Regions from separate parts of the Homo sapiens genome. Here regions 1, 2, 3, 4 and 5 are each linked to region 6. The links come from fine-mapping of genetic effects on gene expression. A gene starts in region 6. Each other region holds a variant in brackets. All regions are shown on one strand. Distances are from middle to middle. Region 1 has its middle 14 kb from the start of LARS2. Region 2 overlaps LOC105377061 (a long non-coding RNA gene). Region 3 has its middle 40 kb from the start of TMEM158. Region 4 overlaps CDCP1 (CUB domain containing protein 1). Region 5 has its middle 36 kb from the start of CLEC3B. Region 6 holds the start of TMEM158 (transmembrane protein 158).

Evidence for each region. PIP is the estimated chance that this variant, and not a neighbour inherited with it, causes the effect.
Region 1: its variant is the best candidate, but not a certain one, in a credible set for the expression of TMEM158 in nasal epithelium (TOPMed, PIP 0.57).
Region 2: its variant is the best candidate, but not a certain one, in a credible set for the expression of TMEM158 in whole blood (INTERVAL, PIP 0.77).
Region 3: its variant is the best candidate, but not a certain one, in a credible set for the expression of TMEM158 in whole blood (INTERVAL, PIP 0.76).
Region 4: its variant is the best candidate, but not a certain one, in a credible set for the expression of TMEM158 in gastroesophageal junction (GTEx, PIP 0.62).
Region 5: its variant is the best candidate, but not a certain one, in a credible set for the expression of TMEM158 in fibroblasts (GTEx, PIP 0.65).

What each region holds. Positions count from the first base shown.
Region 1 is chr3:45,371,546-45,376,620 of GRCh38, reverse strand. No RefSeq gene overlaps it. Among named protein-coding and RNA genes, the nearest start is that of LARS2, 14 kb to the left of the region's middle. The variant G/A (reference allele first, on the strand shown) is at 2,795.
Region 2 is chr3:45,317,731-45,322,805 of GRCh38, reverse strand. The region is part of intron 2 of LOC105377061 (a long non-coding RNA gene); the gene reads right to left. Among named protein-coding and RNA genes, the nearest start is that of LARS2, 68 kb to the left of the region's middle. RefSeq lists an enhancer at 307-807. The variant G/T (reference allele first, on the strand shown) is at 1,915.
Region 3 is chr3:45,263,968-45,269,042 of GRCh38, reverse strand. No RefSeq gene overlaps it. Among named protein-coding and RNA genes, the nearest start is that of TMEM158, 40 kb to the right of the region's middle. The variant G/A (reference allele first, on the strand shown) is at 2,364.
Region 4 is chr3:45,111,782-45,116,856 of GRCh38, reverse strand. CDCP1 (CUB domain containing protein 1) reads left to right here. Exons shown (of 9, transcript NM_022842.5): 3 at 4,412-4,774. Among named protein-coding and RNA genes, the nearest start is that of CDCP1, 32 kb to the left of the region's middle. The variant C/T (reference allele first, on the strand shown) is at 3,034.
Region 5 is chr3:45,059,691-45,064,765 of GRCh38, reverse strand. No RefSeq gene overlaps it. Among named protein-coding and RNA genes, the nearest start is that of CLEC3B, 36 kb to the right of the region's middle. The variant T/A (reference allele first, on the strand shown) is at 2,272.
Region 6 is chr3:45,223,868-45,228,942 of GRCh38, reverse strand. TMEM158 (transmembrane protein 158) reads left to right here and starts at 2,656. Exons shown (of 1, transcript NM_015444.3): 1 at 2,656-4,477. The coding sequence starts at 2,916. The coding sequence ends at 3,818. RefSeq lists silencers at 2,410-2,749, 2,760-2,829.

The DNA.
Region 1 (5,075 bases), 150 kb before region 6:
TGCCTTAAGGACATGGTCCTGCTGCAGATAACTAGCCCAACTCATCCCTTTATTTCGGCCCATCCCTTTGTTTCCCAAAAGGGATACTTTTAGTTAATCTAATATCTATAGAAACAATGCTAATGACTGGTTGGCTGTTAACAAATACATGGATAAATCTCTGTTCGAGACTCTCAGCTCTGAAGGCTGTGAGACCCCTGATTTCCCACTTCACACCTGTATATTTCTGTGTGTGTGTCTTTAATTCTTCTAGCGCTGCTGGGTTAGGGTCTCTCCAACTGAGCTGGTCTCAGCAGAAATACATCCCATGCTCATGGATGGGTAGAATCAATATTGTGAAAGTGACCATACTGCCAAAAGCAATCTGCAAATTCAACGCAATCCTCATCAAAATACCACAATCATTCTTCACAGAATTAGGAAAAACAGTTCTAAAATTCATATAGAATAAAAAAAGAGCCTGCATAGCCAAAGCAAGACTAAGCAAAAAGAACAAATCTGGGGGCATCACACTACCTGATTTCAAACTATACCATAAGGCCATGGTCACCAAAACAGCATGGTACTGGTATAAAAATAGGCACATAGACCAATGGAACAGAATAGAGAAACCAGAAGTAAACCCAAATACTTACAGCCAACTGATCTTTGACAACGCAAACAAAAACATAAAGTGGGGAAAGGACACCCTTTTCAACAAATGGCACTGGGATAATTGGCTAGCCACATGTAGGAGAATGAAACTGGACCCTCATCTCTCACCTTATACAAAAATCAGCTCAAGATGGATTAAGGACTTAAACCTAAGATGTGAAACTATAAAAATTCTAGAAGATAACATTGGAAAAACCCTTCTAGACACTGGCTTAGGCAAGGATTTCATGACCAAGAATCCAAAAGAAAATGCAATGAAAACAAAGATAAATATTTGGGACTTAATTAAACTAAAGCGCTTTTGCATGGCAAAAGGAACAATCAGCAGAGTAAACAGACAACCACAGAGTGGGAGAATATCTTCACAATCTATACATTTGACAAAGGACTAATATCCAGACTCTATGATGAACTCAAACACATCAGTAAGAAAAAACAAACAATTCCATCAAAAAGTGGGTAAGGACATGAATAGACAATTCTCAAAAGAAGATATACAAATGGCCATGAACATATGAAAAAATGCTCAACATCACTAATGATCAGGAAAATTCAAGTCAAAACCACAATGTGATACCACCTTACTCCTGCAAGAATGGCCATAATCAAAAAGTCAAAAAACAGTAGATGTTGGTGTGGATGCAGTGATCAGGGAACACTTCCACACTGCTGGTGGGAATGTAAACTAGTACAGCCACTATGGAAAACAGTGTGGAGATTCCTTAAAGAACTAAAAGTAGAACTACCATTTGATCCAGCAATCCCACTACTGGGTATCTACCCAGAGGAAAAGAAGTCATTATATGAAAAAGATACTTGCACATGCGTGTTTACAGCAGCACAATTCACAACTGCAAAATCGTGGAACCAACCCAGATGCCCATCAATCAACGAGTGAATAAAGAAACTGATATATACATATGATGAAATACTGCTCAGCCATAAAAAGGAATGAGTTAATGGCATTTGCAGCAACCTAGATGAGACTGGAGACTATTATTCTAAGTGAAGTAACTCAGGAATGGAAAACCAAGCATCGTATGTTCTGACTGATATGTGGGAGCTAAGCTAAGAGGACACAAAGGCATAGGAATGATACAATGGGCCAGGCAAGGGTGGCTCACGCCTGTCATCCCAGCACTTTGGGAGGCCGAGGCGGGTGGATCATGAGGTCAGGAGATCGAGACCATCCTGGCTAACACGGTGAAACCCCGTTTCTACTAAAAATACAAAAAATTAGCCGGGCATGGTGGTGGGCGCCTGTAGTCCCAGCTACTCAGGAGGCTGAGGCAGGAGAATGGCTGAACCCGGGAGGCGGAGCTTGCAGTGAGCCGAGATCGCACCACTGCACTCCAGCCTGGGCGACAGAGTGAGACTCCATCTCAAAAAAAAAAAAAAAAAGAATGATACAATGGACTTTGGGGACTTGAGGGGGAAGGATGGAAGGGGAGTGAGGAATAAAAGACTACAAATATGGTGCAGTGTATACTGCTCAGGTGATGGGTGCACCAAAATCTCACAAATCACCACTAAAGAACTTACTCATGTAACCAAATACCACCTGTACCCCAATAACCTATGGAAGAATAAAAATAAATAAATAAAAATAAATAAATGCTTTAAAAAATAAGTATTTATTAGTTTTTAACTTTAAGCTTAGTCCTTTTTCAAAAATTACACTATCTTGGTTTTCCACATCATAGGAAGCTTCTGTAGAATGTGTTTGAAATGTTTGTTCCTTGGTGCCATAAAGAAATAGCACTTGAACATAAATTTAATTTATTTAGTAAGGCCATTTTTACTTCCTGCAGAAAGGGTACACTTGCTAGCAGTTTTGCCACAAAAGTACACTGAACAAAGGAAACAGGGTCATTTATAACCTGACACATTCACCCTACTGCTGTGTCTGGTTTCCACTGGCTGGAGCGGGACCTCACATTCTGTATTTGTCCTGATTGGCTAGCAACTTAGAACTTTTTAAAAGAGGCAAAGGTAGAAGGGAACAAAGGAAGGAGGAAGTAACTTGTGGAATGCTGAGAAAGGTAAAAACACTTTCAAGTAAGGAAGAGGAACAGGCTATGACCTAATGCTTGCTTGGACCAGTATAAGCATGCTAGGGCAAATATTTAAGCTAAATTGT[G/A]GGAGCTAAGAACATAAAGTACATTGATTTCCTTATTATGGCTAGCAGATATTTAAGAATGTTAGCACAGGTCTTTCAATAAATTTTGCTTCTAAGAGAAGTTACTATTTATTCCTAATTAGATGGGGAGGAAAGTCTTTGAAAAGGAACCTCTACTTTACTTTTTACACATGGACACCCGCAAAATTGACTTTCTTCCCAATGTAATTACCTGTTTTCTTTTATTGCATTTGATCTTCAGCCTGAACCACCGCACATCTCCCACCCTTGTGTCTCCCCCTCCAGCTCTGTCGTCCTTCTCTGCTTGTCTCCTTTGCCTTGGTTTTCATTCAGCCAATGCTGCAAACCCCGCAACAGGCAGGCCCCGCATCAGGAAATGGGCCTACAGCGATGAACTGGCCAGGCTCTCTGCCCTCCAGGGAATCTTTGTGTCTAATTCTACTCCATGACTGGGTGCCTCTGCCTGTCTTCCCATCTGTGTGTCTTTCATATTCTGGAACCTGACCCTCCAAGTCTCTCTCTCTCTCTCCCTCTTTCTCTCTCTATCTCTCTTTCTCTCCTCTCTACTGTTGCTTCCCAACCACCCTCTCAGATGGTCTTTGTGGTCCCCACCATGCTACCTCCTCACCCCCTTCCTACCTCACCTTGCCTCACCTACTCTGTTGGAACCTGCCAGGGTTTAGGCATTCTGGATTAATTTAAGTAGTATTTAAAATTTCTTAATGATCAATTTGCTGAGTTATTTGTGGAATCCCTTAACATCGTGTCACTTGAATCAGTGTGACATTATTTCTCTGCCCTCTGTTCATTTTCCCTACTTCTTGCTGCTTGCTCTGCACTCTATTTGGCTAATATAAAAGCCTGTGGCAAACATCTCCAGGAATGGGAATCTTTATTGCTTTGACCATCTCATCCCCTTAAGGTAAAAACAAGACTATTCCTCCTTGCTTACCCCTCTAGGTAAGGCAAACTCACTAGAAATGACCTAGAAGTGTAAGAGTAATACATAATTCCAACTTGGTATTTATTTCCATGCTTTAACCAGGTATATTCTTACCTGAGCTGTCACATTTTATTTTATTTTATTTATTTTGAGATGGAGTTTGCTCTTATTGCCCAGGCTGGAGTATAATGGTGCCATCTCGGCTCACCAAAACCTCCGCCTCCAGGGTTCAAGTGATTCTCCTGTCTCAGCCTCCCAAGTAGCTGGGATTATAGGCATGCACCACCACATCTGGATAATTTTGTATTTTTAGTAGAGACAGGATTTCTCCATGTTGGTCAGGCTGGTCTCGAACTCCCGACCTCAGGTGATCCACCCGCCTCGGCCTCCCAAAATGTTGGGATTAGAGGTGTGAGCCACCTTGCCTGGCAGCTGTCACATTTTAGATGTTGATTTAGATCTTCTGGGAACAACTTTCAGTCTCCCAGTATGGAGATGAAGGCAAACCTCAAGATACATGCTACTATATGAATTACTTTTCAATAAAATTGCCCCAGCTGTGATAACCAAATCGCTTAAGGTATAGATGGGCTTATCATCTATTGTTTCCTAGCATCTATTCCTCCCTCTTTCCTAATCATCACTTTTGGAATTCCCTTTAGGAAACTACCCCTTGACCCAATTCTGGGCCATTTAGTCTATGGACTTGACCTGCATCCCCAGGTCTAAGGTGCGGTGTAAACTACTCAGCTCATTCTATCCCAGGAACACAGAGACAGTTCAGTCAGAAACATGACCTAAGCCAGAGCAATCAGGGGGAAGCACAGGACTTCTGCTAGGAATACTAGATCCCAGATTCTCTTTCCTTCTGTGTGTAATAAAAACCTTAGGAGCTGCTGCAGCCATCCCAGAACCGAACCGCTGCTGCAACAAATATGGAAGTGCAGATATCTCTTTGATATACTTATTTCCTTTCTTTTGAGTATATACCCAGCAGTAGGATTGCTGTATCATATGGCAACTCTATTTTTAGTTTTTTGAGGAACCTTCAAACTGTTCTCCATAGTGATTGTACTAATTTACATTCCCACCAACAGTGTGAGGGTTCCCATTTCTCCGCATCCTTGCCAGCGTTTGTTATTGCCTGATGATGTCTCATTGTAGTTTTGATTTGCATTTCTCTGAAGATCAAAGATGTTGAGCATCTTTTCATATCCCTGTTTGCCATTTGTATCTCTTGTTTTGAGAAATGTCTATTCAAATCTTTTGACCATTTTTTAATCAGATTTTTACTTTTTTTTTTTCCTACAGAGTTATTCAAGCTCCTTATATATTCTG
Region 2 (5,075 bases), 94 kb before region 6:
GTCTTCAACAGTGGTGCTGAGCTCACCCTGCTCAGGCTGCTACAAGACCCCTCTGATAGAGTTCAATCAGACTCTGCACTAGATGCCAACTCATGACCATGGTGGCTCCTCAATGGGTACTGGGGTAAAAACACAGGGCAGGGTCTCAGGAGAGGGCGCTATGGCCTTGGAGTGAGCGAGACCCAAGAATAATGTACCTGTCTGAAGAGTGTCCCCCCAAAATTCAGGTCTAATTGGATCTTATTTGGAGATAGGGTCTTTGTAGATAAAATTAGTTAGGATGAGGTCATACTGGATTAGGGTGGGCCCTAAATCCAATGACTAATGTCCTCCCAAGAAGGTCACATAAAGACACAGGAAAGAAGGCTCTGTGACATCATGACAGTGGCAGAGATTGGCTACAAACCAAGGAACACCCAACGATTTGGGGGCAACCACTAGAAGCCAGGAAGAGGCATGGAAGGATTCTCCCCTAGAGCCTTCAGAGGGAGCATGAGACACCTTGATTCAGACTTCTGGCCTCCAGAACCGCAAGAGAATACATGTCTGTGGTTTTAAGCCCCCAGCTGGTGGCACTTTGTTATAGTAACCATGGGAAACAAATGCGGATGCTGCCTGAGCAGATCTGCCAAGTGCAGCACACACCTGGGCTTGTTTCCCCTGAGCGGGAGCCCACAGCACCCTGGGTAGGATGGGCAGCCTCCCTAGGACTGCGGAGGGGCAGGGGCAACCTCACACAGACAGGGTGGGGTGTCCGGATCACAGCCTTTTCTGGCAGTCTGTCCACTCTGCCAACATTCAAGAAAGGACTCTTTAAAAAAAAATGTCTCCCAACAAAATCAATTCTGGAAAAGCTTCAAAACACAACACAGCTCCCCACTGTGCCTCTTAATTTTCCCCTCCAGAGGAGACAGTCTCGTACCTCATCAGTGCCTCAAAGGAAACAGAACAATCCAGTGCTGTGCTAGGGACAGCGCTCGTGGGCAGGCAGAGCTCACTGTCCTGCCTCCTGGCGGGTGGGCACAGTCACAGTCACAGGGCTTCTGTGAGGACAGGAGTCCTCAGAAACCTGGGACACTTCAGGTTCCCCAACAGGAGCTCTGCCGTTTTAGAGGCCTGCACTGAGCTCTGAGCTAACCCACCCACTTGTTACTGGGATCCAGAAGATTTCTCAGCCCAAAAGTGGCTTGATTGTTTTCTCTATGAGAAACAGGCTTTAATAATAATTAATTTGGCAAACTATAATCGGGGGTTCATGTGAGGATGCTGCAGTGACTCTTGTCGGAAATCAAGAGATGAAGGACACGAGGTCCCACCCCCAGGGCACCATCTATAAGAAATATTAATTAGACTTTGAATGCTTATATTTCCAAAGTGAATCCTTGCACATCCTCTCATCAACCCTCCCCATCGTGCTGATGAGAAGCCTGAGGCTCAAAGAGGCTGAGAGATTTGCCCTGTCTTAGCGTTCATGGGGACTCTCACCCACAGTGCGGGGAGCTGGAACCAGAGTTCCTTCCTCTGGGGACACGATATGTACACATGTTAGCAGGAAGTTAAGGAGGAATGGCAGGTGGCAGGAGGCAGTCCAAGCCCGCGGCCAGAGTTCCAAATTGATTCTTGGGTGAGAGAGAGAAGAGCCTATTGAAAATCCCCATAGCAACAAGACAGAAATCTGGGGGCACCCAGCCCCTGAAGTTTGGGGTGGTGTGGGCAGGGGTGGGAGAATGTAGAGCCTCAAATGTGGTCTTCTGACACAATCTCCAAAGACAGAACAGTGAAGGATTGAAAAGATGAACCACTCATCATTTAGAGTGGGGGTCTCAGTCTGTTATTACAGGCAACCTGGCGGGTGGGGAACTTTAATATCATGAGGCCAGGTCCCAGCCCCAGAGATTCTGACTTCACCATTCA[G/T]GGGTGGCCTGGGCATCGGGATTATCAGAACTCCCCGGGGACTTAGAGATCTCTCCGTGTTCATAATCCTATGTTGGTGTTTTTTTCTCCTCCTCCTTGTTTTCTAAAAATTTCACAAGGATCCCCAGAAGGTGTGAGCAGGGCAGGGGATTAACAGACCACACAGAGGCCTGCCTGGGTCTAGGTGAGGAGAGCAGGCCTAGAGGATACTGTGTATGTGTGTTTTTAAAATTAGGAACGGTTTACATGGAGTAAAATTGACCCTTTGAAGTTTACAGTTTTGTGAGTTTTGATTGATGCGTATAATCCTGCAACAATCCCACAATCAAGACATAGAACAGTTTCATCACCCAAGGGACGTTCCTGAATGGAGTTGCAGTGACGATTTAGGCTCCAAACCCGAATCCCCTAAATTCTCTGCCCAATCAAAGAAGTGTATCTGCAGTTCCTTCTCCTATTTCCGGGCCAGGCAACTTTCCTGATAGTTGGAAGCAATGATTTATCCAACAACCCATCTCAGCCTCGTTAGAGCCTGTGTTGAAAAAGCCAGGTTGCTAATGTCACTTTTCTTCCTTCTCCCGAGACCAATTTTCTGGACCTGAATAGCACCCACAGCCAACACCTTTTAAGATCACTAAAGCGACTTCCATGGGAGAAAAAAAAAATCACCCATTTCTCAAAGCAATCACAAGCGCTTTCCTCATGCAGCTGTTCCCAGCTCCTGAGAAATCATTTAATTGGTTTGGAGGTCACAGGATCCTCTTCCATGGTTTGGAGGTCACAGGATCCTCTTCCAATTAGGGTCTCATGCCAGCTGCCATCTGCACTGGGGACAATCGGACTGGGCTTTGTAAGACAAACAAGTCCATCTGAGAGGCAGCCACAGTCCTTCAGCAACCAGCTGGCTCCTTCCACAAGGCAGCCTGTCTGTAGCCTAGAGCTCATCGTTGCCTCCAGGTCTGTTATGTGGGACCAGAATGAAATAAACAGAACAAATATTTTCAACTCAGCCTCTTTCCCTTTTCCAGAGCAGCCCCCATGAGGATAGATGGGGTTGGCAGGGTAGTGGGGCCATTCCGGATCTTATCTTTCAGCCGTAGTGGAAGGAGAGCTTCCTGCCATGGCTCGTTGGCATGTCGACTCTATTGCCCCCTTCCCTACGATGCTCATACCGTATTAAATCTGCCTCTGTTTCAATGCCAGGGAGGGGACCCACTGAGGAGCTAAGTGTCAGGAACATGGTGAACAGGGGGTGGTGTGTACATGGGAGTATTTAACAAAATGTTCCCAAGTTGGGAGGACTTGCAAGAAAATGGAGGGAGGGAGGACGACTTAGGCCAAATGGTGGAGTCAACAAAGCCCCAGCTCCTGTGATTCCTCCTCCACAAATCCCTCCTGGAATCATGCCTCTAAATGTCTAAAGGGACATCTACTGTGCTCCCAGGGCCCTGAGGATCAGCTCCCCGCTGAGCCTTGGAGTGACTCCAGTTCAGGAGTCACACCCTCCCAGACAGACCAGGGCTGTAGGCCTTCAGGTAAAGCTGCGTGGCTAAACCTATATTGAGGAAGATTTATCTGGACCCCTACCCTAACTCCAACACATTAATACTTGTTTTTCCTGGGGCTGGGGGAGGGAAGCCCCCTGCTGCCCTGACCTAAGCCCACCCTGGAACTGTGGCAGAAATGGTAGCTCCACAGACCACCCTTCCTTGTGGATGAAACTTGTACATGCCCTCATTAGGCCCAGAACTGCCTAATTAACTCTTGAGTTAGAGAATCCTTGAGTCAAAAGCAAATCATAAAGGGGAAAGCCTGGGCCAGAGCCTTTATTTATTAGGGTTTCTGTGGGAAAGATAAGGTGGGATAGGGTAAGCAGTTTAGGAGTAAATGATTCTGGATGGCTTTGGGGCCATAGAGGTTGTTCCTAGTTGTCTGACACTCACTGGGCCCTGGGTTGATGTAGGGCGGGGGGCGGGGTGGAGGGAGTAAATCCAGGGCTCAGGCTTGGTTAGTTTTCATATGAAAGGCATCCTCAAGGGAGCCCTTTGCTATCTCTAATAATTGGCTAGCCCTGGGAGGAGCAGTCTCTCTCAGCAAGGTCAGAAATGCTAGAGCATCAAGAATACAGAAAATAAGAAAAGAGAGGAATTGGCCCAGTGATGAAAGGATGTCAAACAGATAAATTCAGAGTCTAAGAAAACACAGTTAAAACAGAGGTCCCATTCCCCTCTCTCTGCCTTCCCAGCCACCTGTCCCACTGTTACAGTAGGTAGCTAATCAGACATGAGCAGGACAGAAGAGCCCCACCACCAACAACCAGGAGTGTCAGGTGACCATCAGGTGATAGGCAGTTTGTTAACTGTCTTTCTTTTTTTCTTTATTTTTTTTTTTAGATGGAGTTTTGCTCTTGTTGCCTAGGCTGGAGTATAATGGTGCAATCTCGGCTGACTGCAACCTCTGCTTCCCGGGTTCAAGTGATTCTCCCACATCAGCCTCCCAAGTAGCTGGGATTACAGGCACCCACCACCAAACCCAGCTAATTTTTTTTTTTTTTTTTTTTAGTAAAGAACATCCACCTGCCTTGGCCTCCCAAATTATTGCTGGGATTACAGGTGTGAACCACGGCCGCTGGCCTTAACTGTCTTTCTAAAATAATAATTGATTGCAGCCAGCACCAGGGAAAGGCAGTCTCCCAATAAACAGAAACACCTGAAACTGGTGATCAGCTGCTTCCTGGTAAGATTTCAGGAGTTAGGTGAGTGCACTCATGCACGTACACTAAAAGGCAAAATGGCAGAATTTAACTGGTATATGACCTTCTCTAGGAATGCTAGAGATTGGTAAGGGAAGAATGTCTCTAGTGAGCATGCGTATAACTCCAGTAAACACACTGTATTTGTGGCTGGCCCCTCGCAAGGGCTAACAGGCCATTGTGCATGCAGACAGCCCACCCCAGGGGAAGAATCAGGGGCAGAAGGCACGCAAGGCCCTGGAAGCATGCCAACGTATAAAACCCCAAGTCAGAGGTCAAACAGAGCACTTGATCTCTCAAGCTGCCCACTTGGCCCTCTTCCAATTATACTTCTTTTCATTCCTGCTCTAAATCTTTTTAATAAACTTTCCCTCCTGGTCTAAAACTTGCCTCGGTCTCTCCTTCTATC
Region 3 (5,075 bases), 40 kb before region 6:
CAACAATTTGAACATCCTAAAATCTTCCTTCTACATGAAAAATATTCTAATGTGCTAAACACACAGGTGCATATCCAGTTGGCTCTCCGTATTCCTGGGTTCCACATCCTTGGATTCAACCAACGGCAGAGTGAAAATATTTGGGAAAAAATACCCCAATACAACAAGAATAATACAAATTCAAGAAGACAATACAGTGTAACAACTATTTATATAGCATTCACATTGTATTAGGTATTATAAATAATCTAGAGATGACTTAAAGTATATGAGACTCCTCTATAAAGTAGGTATATATTTTTAAAAGTATATGGGAGGATGTGTGTAGGTTATATGCAAATACTACCCCATTTTATAGAAGGGACTTGAGCATCCTCGGATTTTGGTATCTGCGATGAGTCCTGGTCAATCCCCCATGGATACCAAGGAACAACTGTGTGCATTGGTTATACACATACCTATATGCATGTGTATATGTACATATATAACCAATCCCCTGAGGATATGGAGGAGATATATGGATAGATAGATATAGATATAGGTATAGGTATATGCAAAATCTTCATAGCAATGAAATGGTCTGCAACAAAGCAAAGTAAGAGAATCACCTGTGATTCAGAAAAGCAGGAGGAACCTGAGCCTTTGAAGGTAAACAAAGACCAAGCCAAAAAGCACTTCACAGCTTGAGATCATCTTTAGGGAAAAGTAGCCTAGGATTTTTTTCATAGGGAAGCAGATAGTAAGGGGAAGAGGTAGGAATGAACAGTAAACCAAGCCTTAGACCTGAGCAGTAATAGATCCAGAGCCACAAAATTTTGCACAAATCCAAGCCTCGGAGGGGGTTACACTTTCAGGAAAGGGTGAAGTTAAGGGTATCCTACCTAGCAGAGGCTGACTTCAAGAAACAGTGACTCAGAATCAGTTCTGGCAGAGGAGGAAAAATGAAAACTTCTCCTGAGATTTGAAGGCAAGTGGCCAACCCTCCTCTAGGTGTGATGTCTGAATGTACACTGAAATATACCAAAATATCCCAAGATAAGAATTTAGAAGAACCTAGGTCCACAGTGCCCAAAGCTCCTGACGGAGGCAATCATGTACGCACAACACAGCCCTCATAAAATTCCTACTGGAAAAGTCCCATCATAAATGAGCTCATAATGTAAAATCAGAAAAGGCCCAAGTAAGCAAGCCATCATGAGTAAGAGTCAAAAGAAAAAAAATTAGAATTATTAAATATAAACTATGATTTTAATACGATTAAGTAAATAACAGAGATAATTTGAAAGTAAGTAAGAAGCAGGAGCTTATAAAAATAAGCAGACATATTAAAAAGAACCAAACAAAGCTTCTGGAAATAAAGAATGTAATAGAAATTAAAATATCTGTAGAAGAGTTGAAAAGCAAAATAGACACAACTGCAGAGAGAACCTGTAATTTCAAACGTAGATCCAAAGAAAATACACAGAATGCAGCTCAGAGACAAAAAGATATGGAAAAGTCTGGTTAAGAAAATTAAATGATGGAGTGAAAAGGTCCAATATAGATCTAATCAGGGCTCCAAAAATAGATAATAGAGAGTGCGATAAGAGGTAATTTTCAAAGATATAAGAGCTGAGGGTTTTGCAGAATTGAGTAAAGACATAAATCCCCATATTTAGAAAGTTTTTGAAACTCCCAGACAGGATAAGTCATAAGGTGGACATACTCAGACACATCGTAGTGAAACTACAGAATGTCAAAGACAAAGGGATGATCTTAAAAGAAACCTGAAGAAAAAAAAGACAGATTACTCACAAAGGAGCCAAGATAGATCAAATTTGACTTCTCAACATCAAACATAGAAGCCAGAAGAGAGTGGAATAATGTCTTCAAAGTGGTGATAGAAATAATTGTCAACTAGATTTATAAGCCTAGCAAAACCATGTTTCTAGAATGAGTAAAATAGAGACATCTTCAGTAACGTAAACAGTAAGAGAGTTTGCCACTGACAAATCCTCACTAAAGAAACATCTAAGTGATGTACTCCAGGAAGAAGTAAAATATCCTAGAATGAAAATCTAGGATCCAAGAAGAATAAGCTGACAGGTGAAAGTGATTTTTCCCACTCCACCAGACCCTCCCTGAATCATTACTTCCTTCCTTCTGCTTTGGAGCAGATTGCCCTTCACTTCCTTGCCCACCTGGAAAATACCTACTCTTCTCCTAGGAATCACTTTTTCTGTGAATCCCTCTCTGGATCCTCACCTAGAACTGATGCCTCTTCCCCTTGAACCTCCACTGAACTTTTGGGATTTTTTGTTTGTTTGTTTTTTGAAACAGGGCCCCACTCTGTCGCCCAGGCTGGAGTGCAATGGCGCGACCTC[G/A]GCTCACTGCAGCCTCCACCTCCTGGGCTCAGGTGACCCTCCCACCTCAGCCTCCCGAGTAGCTGGGACTATGGGCACACACCACCATGCCCGATTATAATTTTTGTATTTTTTGTGGAGACAGGGTTTTGCTGTGTTGCCCAAGCTGAGTCTTGAACTCCTGAGTTTGAGCAGTCTGCCCACCTCACCCTCCCAATCCACTGAACTTTCTATGAAGTTTTAGAATACTTTCCTTCACTTATTTATCTATCTTTTTCCCTTCCTACACTGTGATCTTCTTGAGGGAAAACTTTAAGATGAATCTCTATATCCTCGGCTTAGATTATCACTATTAACAATGACTATTTCTTGGTAACGGGAATTTTACATCAACAAGCTCATTATTCTCTAGAGAAAGAAAAAAATCAAATAGGATTCTAAGGCTGATGAAGGATGGAAAAAAAAAACAAAACAGATGACTGCAGCGGGGAACCAAAAGAGGAGTGGAAAATTGGGAACTCTTAGACGTGGTGATACCCGGGGAATGAAACTGGGCACAGGAGAGGAGTGGTGGCAGATGAGTTTTCATTTTAGGCCTTTCTAGTGGTTCAACTTTGTCTCGATCAAGTGTATATGTTTCTTTAATAACCACAACAATAAAAATTTAGCAAATTGTGTAAAACCAATTTAGAGGACATCCTCATGAAGCGGGACCTGTTAAGTAAATTGTAATTTACCCACGCTGTGTATACTGTGCAGCATTGAGAAAGGGAAGGTAGCCTGTACAGAAATGGAAAGAGATCCATGATGTTATGTAAGTGAAGACATTTTAAAAACTAAGTTGATGACCAGTATGGATGTTATGATGCCAATTGTGGTTTTTTAAATCTCTATGAATATGTATATCATCCGACTCAGATCATTTTTTCTTACAAGTGGCAGAGACTCAGCTTTTAAACAAGAAAAGGACATGAATTGGTTCCTACAATTATAAAGTCTGGGGGAAGATCTGGAGCTTTAACTGTAACTCGATCTAGGGGCTCAAAGAGCTCTAGGCTCAGGAAGACAGCACGTTGCCTCCAGAGTACCCCAACAGTTCTGGGATGGAGAGGGTGGCCCAGCTTGCATATGGGCTGGGGGAGGGGGATGCTCTTGGGACCAGGCCTGGGCCATATCCCAACCCTTGTCCCAGGAGGTGGGGTCGGTCTCCCTCAGTTGAGTCTCACAGACTAAGCAAAAATGTGAGCTGGATGGGTGGTGGTCCCCAAAGAAATTGGGTTATTGTTTCCAGGGGAAGGTAGAATCGATTTTGGATGGATTAACTCAACTGATGTCTACCATATACACATACGTCACTTTATCTTATATGACTGGGAAAAGCTCTGGAAGGAGACACTTAAGCTTGGATTAGTGGAGAGGAGCAAGTCCCCTTTTTGAGAGGCTTACACAAACCCAGGGAATTACACATTACTGTACCCCTGACACTGTTCCTTTCCAGGGTCAGTTGTCACAAAACTATCTTGTTCAAAAATTTGGGGCTGTAAGTGGCAAAAACCCACTCAGATGGGCTTAGGCAGAAGGTAGGGGAAAGTTGCTAAAAGAATCCAAGGGTCCCACAAAATGCTCAGACTGTAGAAGAGAATCAGACACCATTCTCCCCAGCTGCTGGCGGGAAAGACAGAGGCCGTGAATGACTGCCACTCTTTCCTCTTTTAATTTTTTTAAGTTGACTTTATTGAGGTATAATTTACATACAATCAAATGCACTTTTTCTTTCCTTTTTTTTTTTTTTTTGAGATGGAGTGTTGCTGTGTCACCCAGGCTGGAGTGCAATGGCATGATCTCGGCTCACTGCAATCTCCACCTCCAGGGTTCAAGCAATTCTCCTGCCTCAGCCTCTTGAGTAGCTGGGATTACAGGCATGTGCCACCACGCCTGGCTAATTTTTGTATTTTTAGTAGAGACAGGATTTCACCATTCTGGTCAGGCTGGTCTCGAACTCCTGACCTCAAGCAATCCACCTGCCTCGGCCTCCCAAAGTGCTGGGATTACAGGTGTGAGCTACTGTGCCCGGCCCAAATGCACATATTTTAAGTGTATAGAAGGGTGAGTTTTGACAAATGCTTACACCCATGTAATCACTACACCCCCTCAGAGTTCCCTCAGGCCCCTTGCTGTCCAACTCCCCTCACACCCTGCCCCAGGAAGCCATTGTTCTGATTTCTACCACCTTAGATTTGTTTTGTCTTTTCTAGATCGTTGTAAAAATGAAACCATACAGCATGTCCTCTTTTGCGTCTCTCAGATGCTCTTTTTGGATATCACAGGGTCCCTGGGCTCTGCATCTCTCTGCAGGTCTTTGCTGTTCTCTCTTTGCTCACTTCCTATCTGTATATGCCCATGCATGGGGCCAAAGGGGGACACCCCTAAATCCCTTTGTCCTTGTCATGTGACCAAGAGTGACCTACCTCATTTCTCAATGACAATCTAAATTTCTGAAAGGTAAGATTTAAGGGTCCAGCTCAGGCCATGTCAGGCTGTGTGCCCACCAGCTCTGGCCAGAGGAGCAGGGTCAGAGCAGACACAGGAGACCACAGGGCCCATCCTGTCGGTGCAGAGGTGGCTTCAGGTCTTGGAGAATGAGGAACGGTGAGCAGATACCCCTGAAAGAGTCCACCACACTGAAAATTGCTTCACTGTAAGTGTCTGGTGGACAGATGTCCTCTACTGCTA
Region 4 (5,075 bases), 110 kb after region 6:
GATTTTCAAAGAAAATTTAATGGGCTGGATTGACTCATGGAAAGGTAGGAAAACTGAATAAATAAATAACCAAGGAGGGGATTGGAAAAAATGCCCGAGACAGGGGAGAACAGTTTGGGTTAGTTAGAGATGATTTTACAAGTGAGTTCTATAAAACTTCAAGGAGCAGATAATTTCTATGACATTCAAACCATTCTAGAGACAGGTTGGCAAACTTCTTTCAGATAAGGTCCGATAGTAGGTGTCTTAGGCCCGTGAGCCAGGAGGTTTGTATCATGTCACAGCTCCTCAACTCTGCTATTACAGAGTGAAATCTGCTGTAGACGATATACATAAACCACCTGGCAAATCAGTTAATGTGATGCTTTGCATTATTAGGTTAGAGAGGAAAAAACTACATATGATTATCTCAATAGATGATTTTAAATGTCTTTTTTTTTTTAACGGAACACTATGGCTCCTCAACTCTTCTATTACAGAGTGAAATCTGCCATAGATGATACATAAACCACCTGGCTAATCAGTTAATGTGATGCTTTGCATTATTAGGTTAGAGAGAAAAAACTGTATATGATCATCTCAATAGATGACTTTAGATGTCTTTTTTTTTTTTTTTTAACAGAACAGTATGAACATAGATTTTAAATGTCTTTCATAAAACACTCTTAGTAAATCAGGAATGGAAGGTTATTTTCTTAATTCAATAAAGAGCATCTATCAAGAACTGATAGCAAATACCATATTTAACTATCAGATATGGCAGCATTACCAATAAAACAGGCAATAACATAAGGAGGCTTATTATGCATGCCCTTGGTCACCATTATTCAGAATCTCTAATTAAATATATAGAGATTATCTTAATAAGTACATAAAGTATACGAAGCAAAATATAAAATTCTGTTGAAAGACAAAAGAGAAGACTTAAATAAATGGAAAGATATGCCATGTTCCTTGATAGGAAAAATAAATATTTTTACAAACAATTAGCCAGGCGTGGTGGCATGTGCCTGTAGTCCCAGCTACTCGGGAGGCTGAGGTGGGAGAATCACTCAAACCCAGGAGGCAGAGGTTGCAGTGAGCCGAGATTGTGCCATTGCACTCTAGCCTGGATGACAGAGTGAGAATTTGTCTTAAAAAAATTTAAAAAAAAAAGAAATACTAAGTATTTTTAAAGTGTAAATTCTCCCCTATATTAATTTATCAATTTAAGTCAATTATAATTAAAATTTTAATGAAGCTTTTACAGAGTTAAAGAGAACGTTGATATATTTAAGAACGCAGTGGAATGGTGTGTTGCTACTAAGAGAATGAAGTAAGTTTGTGTATTTGACATAGAAAGATGCCCAAAATAGTTTTGTTCCATTAAAAACAATGCAGCTTATAGTAGGACAATAGTTTATATAGTTTGATGCTACTCTATTAAATACACACATGTGCACATGCACACTTACATACATGCACACAAACATGCACACACAATCATACAGAACCCAAAGTCTGGAGGGATAAACTCCAAAACTCCAAAATTCTAACTTTATACTACTCTATAGGGGATGGCAGAGGGGAACAGGTGACATTTTCTTCTTTCTACTTTTCTGTACTTCCCCGCCCCACCCCACCCCACCCCCACCTTTTTTTTTTCTGTCACCCAGGCTGGAGTGCAGTGGTGACCACAGCTCACTGTAGCCTCAAACCTCCTGGGCTCAGGTGATCCTCCCACCTCAGCCTCTGGGGTAGCTGGGCACACACCACCACACCCACTTGTCTTTTTGTTTGTTTTTAAAACGACTGTACATTACTTTTATAATCAGTTAAACCAATAAAGTGACTTCCACTTTGAAAAAGGAAAAATGTAACAAGTGACACATTTCACAAGTCAAGCCTTTGAATGCATTCAGTCTCTCAATCCTAGGATGCCCACATGGCTTACTATGTAGTAAAAACCCATGCTCACAACTTTTGAAAATGATATGAAAATATCAATTTCTAAAATAATAAATCTAGACACTGAATCAGGTCCAGTGGTCCACCTGCCCTTCATTGCCTTTTCTGAACAATCATTCTGAAATCAGCATCAGATAAAATTTGATGTCTCCATTCTCATCTCTTCTTGAATAGTTCCATGAGAACTAATGAAAGTTGGCTGAGCATGGTGGCTCATGCCTGTAATCCCAGCACTCTGGGAGGCTGAGGCAGATGGATCACCTGAGGTCAGGAGTTCAAGACCAGCCTGGTCAACATAGTGAAACCCCTACTAAAAATACAAAAGAAATTACCCAGGCATGGCAGCACACACCTATAGTCCCAGCTACTTGGGAGGCTGAGGCAGAAGGATCACCTGAACCTGGGAGACAGGTTGCAGTGAGCCAAGATGGTGCCACTGCATTCCAGCTTGGGTGACAGAGCAAGACTGCATCTCCAAAAAGAAAAAAAAAAAAAAGAGAGTTAATGAAATTAGAAATCTGCTGGGGAAAATGAGTTTATGAATCACTTCAGAAATAATACTTCTCCATCCTCTGGACAGGAATCATTTTAGTTATTTAAAATGTTTTCACTGGACAGAGTACAGGAGAAGATTCCGAGGCATGCCAATCATTTTGACTACTCTTACCTGTGTGTTCATCCTAAAAAACAAAGCTCTTAGCATCAAATGAAAAATTGCTTTCATAACCTGACTCTCACAGTGTCACATGGCTGCTGACAGAGCTGAGGCTGGGAGATGGGGCTTTTTGACTCCAGATTTTACTATAGAATTAAATCAGAATCCCTGGGATGGTCCAGGCATGTGTAGTTTTTAAACGGCCTGCAGGTGAGTTGTAGGTAGAACCAGAGCTAAGAGTCACTGCCTTACTAGAGTTAAATGTTTCCACAAGAGTACAGAACCTAGCCAGAGCCAACTGATGTTGCCCTGGGCACACTGGAGGTGTGCGTGGAAAATCACTTGAGGTCTGCTTTTGAAAGAAAGAGGTGGCTTGATATAAACATTGAAGTTTCCATGAGCTCCTAAAATAGGAACTACCTTTACTAACA[C/T]GCAAAGTCTAATTTTAGTCACGTTAGTCACCATGTTATCTAACCCTGTGTTATTGGTTAGACAGCATAGCGCATTGGCAAGAAAGGGCTGACCAAACACAGCCTGAGCTTTCGTCCTGGGATCTGGAATTGCCGTGTACTTGCTGCAAGTGCCAGCCCAAGTCACCTGGATCCACAGCTGCTTTGCAAAAATTAGAGGTCTGGCTTGGATGACCTCAGAGATCCAAGACTGATCTGAAATTCTCCATAATTCTATTTTGAGTGGACAATACTTTCAAATACCCCAATAGAACAGCAGTAAAGATTCACAAATTATTATTATGGAGGCCAGAGTCTATCACACCTTTCAGATGCCCCCTGCTCAAAACAACAAAACCTTAATGTTACATTGCCTACTTTCTGTTTCGTCCCCTCACTTTCCTCTTGTTTTCTCTTTGATAATATTTCTTGCTTTGTTTTAAAAGGCTTAGGAAACAAATATATCAAAGGATGTTATTAGCTGTTAGCCTTAAAAAAAGAAATTCAACTGCAGTGGTTATAAAATATCAGCATTAAGGCAGTGCAAGAAGAGAAATGGCGCCGCCAGATTCCAGCTGTCCAGGGGAGTTGCACGTTCAGAGTATATTTGCTATGTTGATGAATGTGTTGATGGGGAAACCAGTTTTAAAGGATGGATCTTGGCACTGTGCTCTACAAATTGTGAAATCGTGACTCTCTTAGTACAGGAGAAGTAGGAGATCCCAAAGCACAGACTCTGCTACAAATGCCTTCCTTCTGGCTTCACCCACTGGACCCCAGGAACTTAATCTGGAAATCACAGTAGTTAAGAGATGTCTCAAGTCTGGTGACCTGGAAGCAGAGCCTGAGACAGGATTTTTTGTTTAAGTCAGTGATCAAGAAAGTGCTCTCAGAAGTGAGGAAAGCAGGATAGAGCAGGGCACGTAGCTGAATGCAGATGCGGTTTTAGCTGAAGAGTAGCTTCAGCCTGACCCCATGGGGAGCTCTGGAGTATGAATGGCATACCCAGGTTACATCACTTGAAGCAAGGAGGTCAGACTTTTTAATTCCTGCAGGAGGCCATTATTGGCTGTAGACAGCACCTCTCCCTTGGGATGGGCATGAGGGGCTGCAACACCTCTCAGGCTTTTCTGGTTCAAGGCAGCTCCCCCGAGCTGAGGCACTTCCCCGAAGGAGGGTACATCTGTGAGCCATTGGCCACTAAGACTCACAGCAGTTGGGGCCTGGGTGCCCCTGCCTGGTAAAGGCCACCTTGGGGGAGCCCCAAAGAGTCTACTACAGGGGGCTGAGTGGTGGAGGAGGAGTGGTGTGGGGCCTTGGAGCATCTGTGATCAAAATTGCTTCTGTGACTGTTTTTCAGACTGTATGTCAGGCCCATGTCCTTTTGGGGAGGTTCAGCTTCAGCCCTCGACATCGTTGTTGCCTACCCTCAACAGAACTTTCATCTGGGATGTCAAAGCTCATAAGAGCATCGGTTTAGAGCTGCAGTTTTCCATCCCTCGCCTGAGGCAGATCGGTCCGGGTGAGAGCTGCCCAGACGGAGTCACTCACTCCATCAGCGGCCGAATCGATGCCACCGTGGTCAGGATCGGAACCTTCTGCAGCAATGGCACTGTGTCCCGGATCAAGATGCAAGAAGGAGTGAAAATGGCCTTACACCTCCCATGGTTCCACCCCAGAAATGTCTCCGGCTTCAGCATTGCAAACCGCTCATCTATAAAACGTGAGAAAGCCCCTCCCTGCTATCTGATTAGGTTAAAACACACAAGATCATCATTGTTCTAGGTCAGAAATGGTCAAATGTCAGCAAATCTCTAATACTCAATATAAAAACCATAAAGGAAGATCTAGCTCTCTTATAAGTGACATGGGTCATGCATTCCTAGTGTGAACCCCCTCTTCTCTATTAAACAAACGGGGTGATTCTCTTTGTCCTTTTTGCATGTGATACTTGTTTTCAAAAAAATGACAAGGGATTGGTTCTACAGACCCACCTTGATTGCTTCATTTCTAACTTCTTTGTC
Region 5 (5,075 bases), 160 kb after region 6:
TTTCTTAGTAAACATGCTTTCACTTTATTTCATGGATTCACCTCGTATTCTTTCTTGCACATGGTCCAAGAACCCTCTCTTGGGGTCTGGATTGGGACCGTTTTCCAGTAACATTTTCTCCCTACTCCACCCCCACCTCCCCCACGGACACCTTCCTCAATGACACCAGGCTGGACGAACAGCACCACTCCTTTAGAGGAACTCATCACTTCCTCTCCACTGTAGAGTTAAGTTGGAGCAAAGTCAGTATCTCTAAATAGCTTCTAAGAATTTGGGAAGCTTTTTATTTTATTTTTTAAGTTTGAAAAAATCTTGTTAAATAGAAACTATGAATAGTGTGTGACTTCAAAGAAGTCTGTGGGGCTGGAAAACTTCTCACAGTATACCCTTTTGTAACTTTTGAATTTGAACCTTGAGAATGTATCTCCAATTTTAAAATAAAATGAAAATTAAAACCTCATTTAAAAACTTGTTAAAACTCTGCTGGGTGCAGTGGCTTATGCCTGTAATCCCAGCACTTTGGGAGGCTGAGGCGGGTGGATCACGAGATCAGAAATTCAAGACCAGCCTGGCCAAGATGGTAAAACCCTGTCTCTACTAAAAATACAAAAAAAAAAAAAATTAGCCAGGCATGGTGGCGGGCGGTAATCCCAGGTACTCGGGAGGCTGAGGCAGATAATTGCTTGAACCCGGGAAGTGGAGGTTGCAGTGAGCCGAGATCGCACCACTGCACTCCAGCATGGGTGACAGAGCTAGACTCCATCTCAAAAAAAAAAAAAAAAACTTGTTAAAACTTGGCTGGGCATGGTGGCTCATACCTGTAATCCCAGCATTTGAGGAGGCCAAGGTAAGCGGATCCCTTGAGGCCAGCAGTTTGAGACCAGCCTAGGCAACATGGTAAAACCCTGTCTCTACCAAGCATACAAAAAATTAGCCAGGTGTGGTGGTGTGTACCTGCAGTCCCAGCTACTTGAGAGGCTGAGGTGTGAGGATCACCTGAGCTTGGGAAGTCAAGGCTGTGGTGAGCTGAGATTGCACCACTGCATTCCAGCCTGGTCAACAGAGTGAGAATCTGTCTCAAGAAAACAAAAAACAAAACAAAAAAACCTTGTTAAGACTCAAGATTCTGTGGTTAATAAATGTCCCCACAAAGTATTTCAGTCTTGCCAGCATCTACTGAGTCCATTGTTTTCTGAGTCTCCCTAACAGGCTCATGGATAGAATGGATTAGAAGATGTGCTGTAGAAATTATAAACCAAGTGGCGTGCAGTGGCTCACACCTGTAATCCCAGCCCTTTGGGAGTCTGAGGCGGGCGGATCACCTGAGGTCAGGAGTTCGAGACCAGCCTGACCAACATGGAGAAAACCCGTCTCTACTAAAACTACAAAATTAGCCGGGCGTGGTAGCGCACACCCGTAACCCCAGCTACTCCGGAGGCTGAGGCAGGAGAATCGCTTGAACCTGGGAGGTGGAGGTTGCAGTGAGTCGAGATTGCACCACTGCACTCCAGCCTGGGCAACAAGAGCAGAACTCCGTCTCAAAAATAAATAAGTAAATAAATAAAATAATTAATTAATAAAAAAAGGAAAAGAAATTGTAAACCAAAAAGTATCTGAGACAGGTCTGAATCAATTTAGAATTTTATTTTGCTGAGGTTAAGGACAAGTGCTCAGGAGGCAGGTCTGTGCCTTTCTCCAAAGATGACTTTGAGGGCTTTGATATTTAAAGGAGGAAAGCAGGCTGGAGGAAAAAAAGGGAGGATATGGTCATATTACTGAATCCACATGTTGTGAGAAAGGGAGCAGGTAGGGGAATAGTCAATTATATATTCATCTTTTGTTCAGTAAATCTGCACTTTACGTAAGATAAGGTGAACTTAGAATAGCTACCTGTGGAAATTCTGTAACATTTTATCTGTAGCTGTCTGCTTAGAAATGAAAGGAAAGGCAGCTTCTTCCACAACTCAGCTTTCAGCTTAATTTTTTTTCCTTTGCCATAGTTGTTACCAGAAACAGGTCCCAATCAAGACCCCAAGAGAGGGTTCTTGGATCTCACACAAGAAAGAATTCGGGGCAAGTTCATAAAGTGAAAGCAAGTTTATTAAGAAAGTAAAGGAGTAGGCCGCGCACCATGGCTCACGCTTGTAATCCCAGCACTTTGGGAGGCCGAGGCAGGTGGATTACCTAAGGTCAGGAGTTCCAGACCAGCCTGGCCAACATGGTGAAACCCCATCTCTACTAAAAATACAAAAATTAGCAGGGTGTGGTTGC[T/A]CGCCTGTAGCCCCAGCTACTTGGGAGGCTGAGGCGGCAGAATCACATGGGAGTCAGAGGTTGCAGTGAGCCGAGATTGTGCCACTGCACTCCAGCCTGGGCGACAGAGTGAGACTCTGTCTCAAAAAAAAAAAAAAAAAAAAAAAAGTAAGTAAGTAAAGCAATAAAGAACGGTTACTCCATAGGCAGAGCAGTGTCGTGGGCTGCTCAGCTGCTTATGTTTACTTATTTCTTGATCATATGCTAAACAAGGGATGGATTATTCATGACTTTCCGGGAAAGGGACCGGCAATTCCCATAACTAAGGGTTCCTCCCCCTTTTAGACCATATAAGGTAACTTCCTGATATTGCCATGGCATTTGTAAACTGTCATGGTGTTACAGAAAAGAGGTCTGATCCAGACCCCAAGAGAGGATTATTGGATCTCACACAAGAGAGAATTCAGGGCAAGTTCATAGAGCAAAGTGAAAGCAAGTTTATTAAGAAAGTAAAGGAATAAAAGAATGGCTACTCCAGCCAGTCATGGTGGCTCATGCCTGTAATCCCAGCGCTTTGGGAGGCCGAGGTGGGTGGATCACTTGAGGTCAGGAGTTCGAGACCAGCCTGGCCAACATGGTGAAACCCTGTCTCTACTAAAAATACAAAAATTAGCCAGACATGATGCCACACTCCTGTAATCCCAGCTACTCAGGAGGCTGCAGCAGGAGACTAGCTTGAACCCAGGAAGCAGAGGTTGCAGTGAGCCAAGATCGCACCACTGCACTCCAGCCTAGGTGACAGAGCGAGACTGCATAGACAGAGCAGCCCCTAGGGCTGCTGGTTGCCCATTTTTTTGTGGTTATTTCTTGATGAAATTATAAACAAGGGGTAGATTATATATGCCTCCCCGTTTTAGATTATATATGGTAACTCCCTGACATTGCCATGGCATTTGTAAAATGTCATGGCACTGGTGAGAGCATAGCAGTGAGGATGACCAAAGTTCCCTCTCATCACCATCTTGGTTTTGGTGGGTTTTAGCTGGCTCCTTTACTGCAAACTGTTTTATCAGCAAGGTCTTTATGACCTGCATCATGTGCCAACCTGTCAAATTCTGTGACTTAGAATGCCTTAGCCATCTAGAAATGTAGCCTCATTTTGTAGGTCTCAGCCTCATTTTACCCAGCCCCTATTCAAGATGGAGTCACTCTGGTTCAAATGCCTCTGATATAGTGAATTGGGGTACCAAGTTTTTATTTTCCTTTCACAAAACACTGCAAATATTTTCCTTTCACAAAATACTGCTGGAAGCCTCTTCCACACCACCTCCAGGTGATTCTGGGGCTCCCATCCTCTACCCGACACTCAGACCTTGGTATCCCCAGGCCTTGATACCCCCATCCTCAGGGGCTGACAACCAGCCCTGGGAGAAGAGGTGCTGGGCTCCCTCCATCTGGAAAGAGGAGTCCTGGCACCAGCTGGTGAAATGATTTCAGGCCCTTTCCCAGCCTCTTCACATTGCCCAGGACTTTCCTATCTGACCCCTCCAGGATCCAGACTGGAGATGCAAGAAACCACTCTGACTAGGGACTGGGGTCTAGGGACTGGGGTTGTGAGGGGTCCAGCTGCTCCTTCGAATTCAGGGAGAGAAACCCAGCATGTGAGAGGGACTACTCAGAAAATTCTTTTGTGGTTGCTATGTCATTTGAGGGGAAAAAATATTTTTAGCCAAAATCCACATCCATGGCTCTGCAGGAGAAAAGTAAAGAAGCACTCTGCCACAGACGAGAATTCAGTCTGCACTGTGGACCCTGGGCTGGCTCACTGGCTCTCAGGATACCAGCAGGGGCCAATTTCATTCTTGATTCCTTTCTTTTCACAAAACACTAATTAGTTGGCTGCCTGACACCCACAGCGTTCCCTGAGCTTGTTTGCAGTCCTAGCAGTGGCAAGATTATTTTATATTCCTGGGTTAAGTCTTTTCCCCTACCTTCCACCTAAGGGACTGCCCCCCCTACCCCTCTATTAAGACTTCCACCCCCCACCCCACCCCATGCCCACCCCTGGTAGCTGCAGCCACCATGAGGCCAGCCTGCAGGCTTGGTTTCATGGGTCTTTGATCTCAATGGGATCAATAGTGTGGGTCAATACCTTCTCTTTTGATTTGCAAAGCACTTTCACAAGCACTCTTTTACCCCAATCATCACTGTGCTGGGCACACAACAACTCAATAAATTCTGAATTGAATCGGTCCTTATAACCACCCAGTGAGGCAAGTGCAGCAGAACTGATTATTTTCCTCCTCCTCTCTCTCTCACACTTTCTCTTTCTTTCTTTTCTTTCTTTCTTTCCTCTTTCTTTCTTTCTTCTTTCTTTCTTTTTTGATCCATTATAAGGAAATCCAAAGAATGTGTGATTCTGACACTAAGGCCACACAGCAAGAAAGTGGCAAACTGATGGGAGAAGTCCAGCCTCCTGCTGCCCGGTGTGAGGGAAGGGGGCCCTTCTGCTATACCCATGTGACTCCAAGGTGTGTTCTGTGGCTGCTGATCTCTCTTTTTTTTTTTTCTTTCTTTTTTTTTTTTTTTTTGTGAGACGGAGTCTCACTCTGTCACTCAGGCTGGAGTGCAGTGGTGCGATCTTGGCTCACTGCAACCTCCACCTCCTGGGTTCAAGTGATTCTCCTGCCTCAGCCTCCCAAGTAGCTGGGATTACAGGCACCATGTCTGGCTAATTTTTGTATTTTTCATAGAGACAGGGTTTCACCATGTTGGCCAGGCTGGTCTCGAGCTCCTGACCTCAAGTGATCCGCCCACCTCGGCCT
Region 6 (5,075 bases):
GGGAGACTGTACTGATATCCTGGCTTTGCCACTAACTGCTGTGGGACCTCAGGTAGGTGATTCACCTTCTCTGAGCCTCAGTTTTCTCATGGTAAAATAGGCATCACATCCATGGGATTGTTGTGAAGATTAGAGATGATGTGTGTGTATGTGTCAAACACCTGGCACGTGGAAAGTACTAAACAAGCGGAAGCTAGTCAGAGGTAGGCAAATTTGTTCAATCAAGAAGTATTGGCCGGCCACGGTGGCTCATACCTGTAATCCCAGCACTTTGGGAGGCCAAGGCAGGCGGATCACTTGAAGTCAGGAGTTTGAGACCAGCCTGGCCAACATGGTGAAACCCCGTCTCTACTAAAAATACAAAAATTAGCCAGACGTGGTGGCGCATGCTTGTAGTCCCAGCTACTCAGGACGCTGAGGCAGGAGAATGGCTTGATCCTGAGAGGCGGAGGTTGTAGTGAGCCGAGATCGAACCACTGCAGTCCAGCTTGGGTGACACAGCAAGACTCTATCTCAAAAAAACAAACAAACAAAAATGTATTTACTGAGCCTCTACCCTGAGCTAGGTGCTTTTCCCGTTGCTGGGAACAGTAGTAAACAAGATAGAAAATAACTTCCTCGCTATCTTCTGTTCTCAAATTCCAAAAAGATAGCAAATCAATCTAGAAAGTAGGATCTGTGTTACTATTTGAAGGGTAATTACATTCTGAATGAGGGCGAGGTGACGGAGTCCTCAGGACGGCACCTGCTGGAAAAGTGGGCAGAATGCAGGTTGCTAGGATGCAGAGCTTCAGTGGCGCAACTTTGCAGGGAACTGCTTGGCTCCCCAAATAGATCTCTTGTCTTTTCCCTTTGCTGCTGCCTTCCCCCCTGCACAGACAAAGCCAGGAGTGTCTCAGGAAAGCTCAGGAAGCCTCTGCCTCTGACTGAAACCCCAGAGAATGTCATCTGCAGTCACAGGCAACAGCCTGGCTCAAAACGCACCCCTTGAAGATTAGGCCTCCCTCAGCCCTCAGGATCACTTGATATTCCTGTTCTTCAGGGTTCACCAGACACATGGCTTAAATTAAAACTGTTCTGCCACATCACTGAGCAGCTTCTGTTCCTGATATGCAAAGGTTGAAAGGAGAAGTCATTTTTATTAAAAGCAGGAAAATTCACATTGTTCTCCCTGGTAGCACCACTTCCAAGCACAAAAGTGATGGAGGCTGAAACGAAAAGGGAGTCCCATCCCCTTGGGGAAATGAACCATTTCTGTAGAAACCAAGGACCACTCTAGGCAGCCAACTTGGGCAGCACTGTTAGTAACCACATCACAGCAACCACCATGTGGGAACATCTGGGGACAGATAGACACTGGGTTGGGAGTATTATCACAGCAGCCCTGTGAGGAGGTACCACCCACCCCCCAACTCAGATGGGGAAACCAAGGCTAAGTCAGAATAATGGCTTGCTTAGATGGCAAGAGGTGGAATAAGTTGGGGAGCTTTATTTTGAGGCGTTTTTGCAACTTTCTCAGTCCCATTTTACTCATTGTTAGAAAACAATGGACAAAAGCTTCCAGAAAAGTAATCAGCCAGGATGCCTAGCAATGTAGCTGGACTCTTGGCAGACCTCTCAGGATTAGCTGGTTTAGAAGGAAGGCGGTTTTGTTGAGGCCTTTCTCTGCTCCCTCCACCCCTCCCCTCTCCGAATCAGGAATACTTGGTGCTCATGGAGTACAAGGGCTTCCAACTAAAATAAAATAGATAATAATTCAACATAAATGTCCCCTAAAGAACGATGGGAATGATGAAGGGTCGTTGAAGTTTGTTTCCAAGTGTGAGGGGCCGAACTACTAAGAAAGTGCTTTTCAATATAAATGTGATAAATCTGATCTCTTGACACGTTATTCTTGGTAGCCCTCCTCCCGTATAATATCCCAAAGGGGATGAACTGCCCCTTTGACGTGGGTTCTAACCTACAACTGTTTCATGAACACGCGCTCACTCGACCTGTCAGGACCTGTGTCCTCGGGACCCCCAGGCGGCACAGCTTCAGGGCTCACATTCCCCCCAGCCAGTCACTCTCCACTCGAAACTCCACAGAGTTCTTGGAATTTTCCTCGCTTGCTGCGAGGAGAATCCCAAGTGAGTCTGCTGTGTTGGAGCCATTAAAAAGCAGCCAAACTCTACAGATTTGAGGTAAGAGACACCGTAAAAAGGCAGAAAGAGCTAGTGGCGCGGACTTGTTTCTGGCTCATGAGTTGGCCTAGCGAGGCCCTTTCCCCTCTCTCGACCTCAGTTTCCCCTTCTGTAAAACAAAGGAGGTTCGGTAGCACTAAGGCGAGACAGCGAAGCTCCCCTCAGGCCTGACAAAAGGATGGTCTCCGGGCCCTGGAGCCTCCCTCTGAGAACGCGATTCACCCGGAGCGCGGGGGCGCCCGGGCGCGTCCGCAGGCTTCCCCGCCCGCCCGCACGCACCCCGGGCGATCCGCTCTCCGCCGCGCCCCCGCACCCAGCCCCGCCCCGGCGATTCCTCTCCCAGCCCCGGCGCGTGGAACCCCGCCCTCCCCTGAGTCCCCGAGCCTGGCGAGCGGAGGGCGGGGCGGGGCGGGGCACGCGGGAGGCGGAGCCGAGCCGGGGAATCCTGCTCTGGGATAGCACCCGGCCCCGCAGAGCAGCGCGGCAGCCCAAGGGCCCCGGCGCCGGGGGCGGCGGGGAACCCCAAACGCAACCGGGTCTGGAGGGATCCCCGCGCCGAGCCAGCCGCCGTCACCGCCTCCGCGCCGCCCCTGCGGGCTTGGCAGGCGCCCGGCGCGCCCGCACTGCGCCCGGCCGCCGGCTCCCGCGGTCCCACCGTGAGCTCGCCGGCCCGTCGCCCGCTCGCCATGCAACCGCCGCCGGCCTCGCGCGCGTAGGCGCCCGCCGCAGGCCATGCTGCCCCTGCTCGCCGCGCTCCTGGCCGCCGCCTGCCCGCTGCCGCCCGTCCGCGGCGGGGCCGCGGACGCGCCCGGCCTCCTCGGGGTGCCCTCCAATGCTTCAGTCAACGCGTCCTCCGCGGACGAGCCCATCGCCCCGCGGCTGCTGGCCTCGGCGGCCCCCGGGCCCCCCGAGCGCCCGGGCCCGGAGGAGGCGGCGGCGGCGGCGGCGCCGTGCAACATCAGCGTGCAGCGGCAGATGCTGAGCTCGCTGCTCGTGCGCTGGGGCCGCCCGCGGGGCTTCCAGTGCGACCTACTGCTCTTCTCCACCAACGCGCACGGCCGCGCTTTCTTCGCCGCCGCCTTCCACCGCGTCGGGCCGCCGCTGCTCATCGAGCACCTGGGGCTGGCGGCGGGCGGCGCGCAGCAGGACCTGCGCCTCTGCGTGGGCTGCGGCTGGGTGCGCGGTCGCCGCACCGGCCGCCTCCGGCCCGCCGCCGCCCCCAGCGCCGCCGCCGCCACCGCCGGGGCGCCCACCGCGCTGCCAGCCTACCCCGCGGCCGAGCCGCCCGGGCCGCTGTGGCTGCAGGGCGAGCCGCTGCATTTCTGCTGCCTAGACTTCAGCCTGGAGGAGCTGCAGGGCGAGCCGGGCTGGCGGCTGAACCGTAAGCCCATTGAGTCCACGCTGGTGGCCTGCTTCATGACCCTGGTCATCGTGGTGTGGAGCGTGGCCGCCCTCATCTGGCCGGTGCCCATCATCGCCGGCTTCCTGCCCAACGGCATGGAACAGCGCCGGACCACCGCCAGCACCACCGCAGCCACCCCCGCCGCAGTGCCCGCAGGGACCACCGCAGCCGCCGCCGCCGCCGCCGCTGCCGCCGCCGCCGCGGCCGTCACTTCGGGGGTGGCGACCAAGTGACCCGCTCCGCTCCTCCCTGTGTCCGTCCTGTGTCCGCGCGCGCGGGTGCCTTTCCCGCCGGAGACTCGGCCGGTGTGCTTCGTGCTGTAGTTATCGTTAGTTCCTCTTCCCGAGATGGGGCCGCCGAGAGACCCCAGCGCCTTTGAAAAGCAAGGTTTGTGCTGCGCTTCCAGTTCCGAAAAGCAGATGTTTAAGCCCTTGGACTGAGGGTGGGATCGCAGCTCCGAAGACGGAGAGGAGGGAAATGGGGCCCTTTCCCCTCTATTGCATCCCCCTGCCCGACTCCTTCCCCGCACCCACGTGCCCTAGATTCATGGCAGAAAATGACCAAATCCTGTGTATTTGTTTTATATATTTAATAACTGTTTTAAATGAAAGTTTTAGTAAAAAAAATACAAAACAAAAAGATTAAATTGCTATTGCTGTAGTAAGAGAAGCTCTTTGTATCTGAACATAGTTGTATTTGAAATTTGTGGTTTTTTAATTTATTTAAAATTGGGGGGAGGGCATGGGAAGGATTTAACACCGATATATTGTTACCGCTGAAAATGAACTTTATGAACCTTTTCCAAGTTGATCTATCCAGTGACGTGGCCTGGTGGGCGTTTCTTCTTGTACTTATGTGGTTTTTTGGCTTTTAATACAGACATTTTCCTCCAGAGATGTGTATGTAGCTTTTTCTTTATTTGATTTGGGAAAGGGAATCCCAGAATTGCAAGACGTTACCCTAAAACCTGAGCAAGGGAATCTCGGAAAAGTTAGAGAAGGGCTACTTCTGTCTCCTTTACCTGGCTGTGAGAGATAGATGGAAACAGTATTATTTGCCCTGATGGCGATTGTCTTGCATCTCACCACACTGACCCTCAGTTCCCATCCACCCCCCACCTGTCACGGTGGCAAACACAGTTTTATATGATTTAACTTTTTGCTCATTGTTCTAAGCTCTGCAAAACACCCAGGCAAGCATCAAAATGGTAAAATCAATAGTTCCTCTGAGCTGGATGGCTTTCACGAAAATGACTCACTTTAAAAGGCATGTAGATTTCTTTTCATATGCATGAACTTTAGCAGATAAGCACATTCCAAAAGCTGGTATTAAAACCTGAGATATTATTTTGGCATTTAGATTTTTTAAAAAGATAAACTCTTGGGGGATAAATAGTTAATGATCACAAGATTTTCCTCACTCTTGGTTTCCATGTTACAGTGTCTGCTGTGTAGTAGTTTCAAATTCTTCCAGGTTTTCAGAAGAATAAG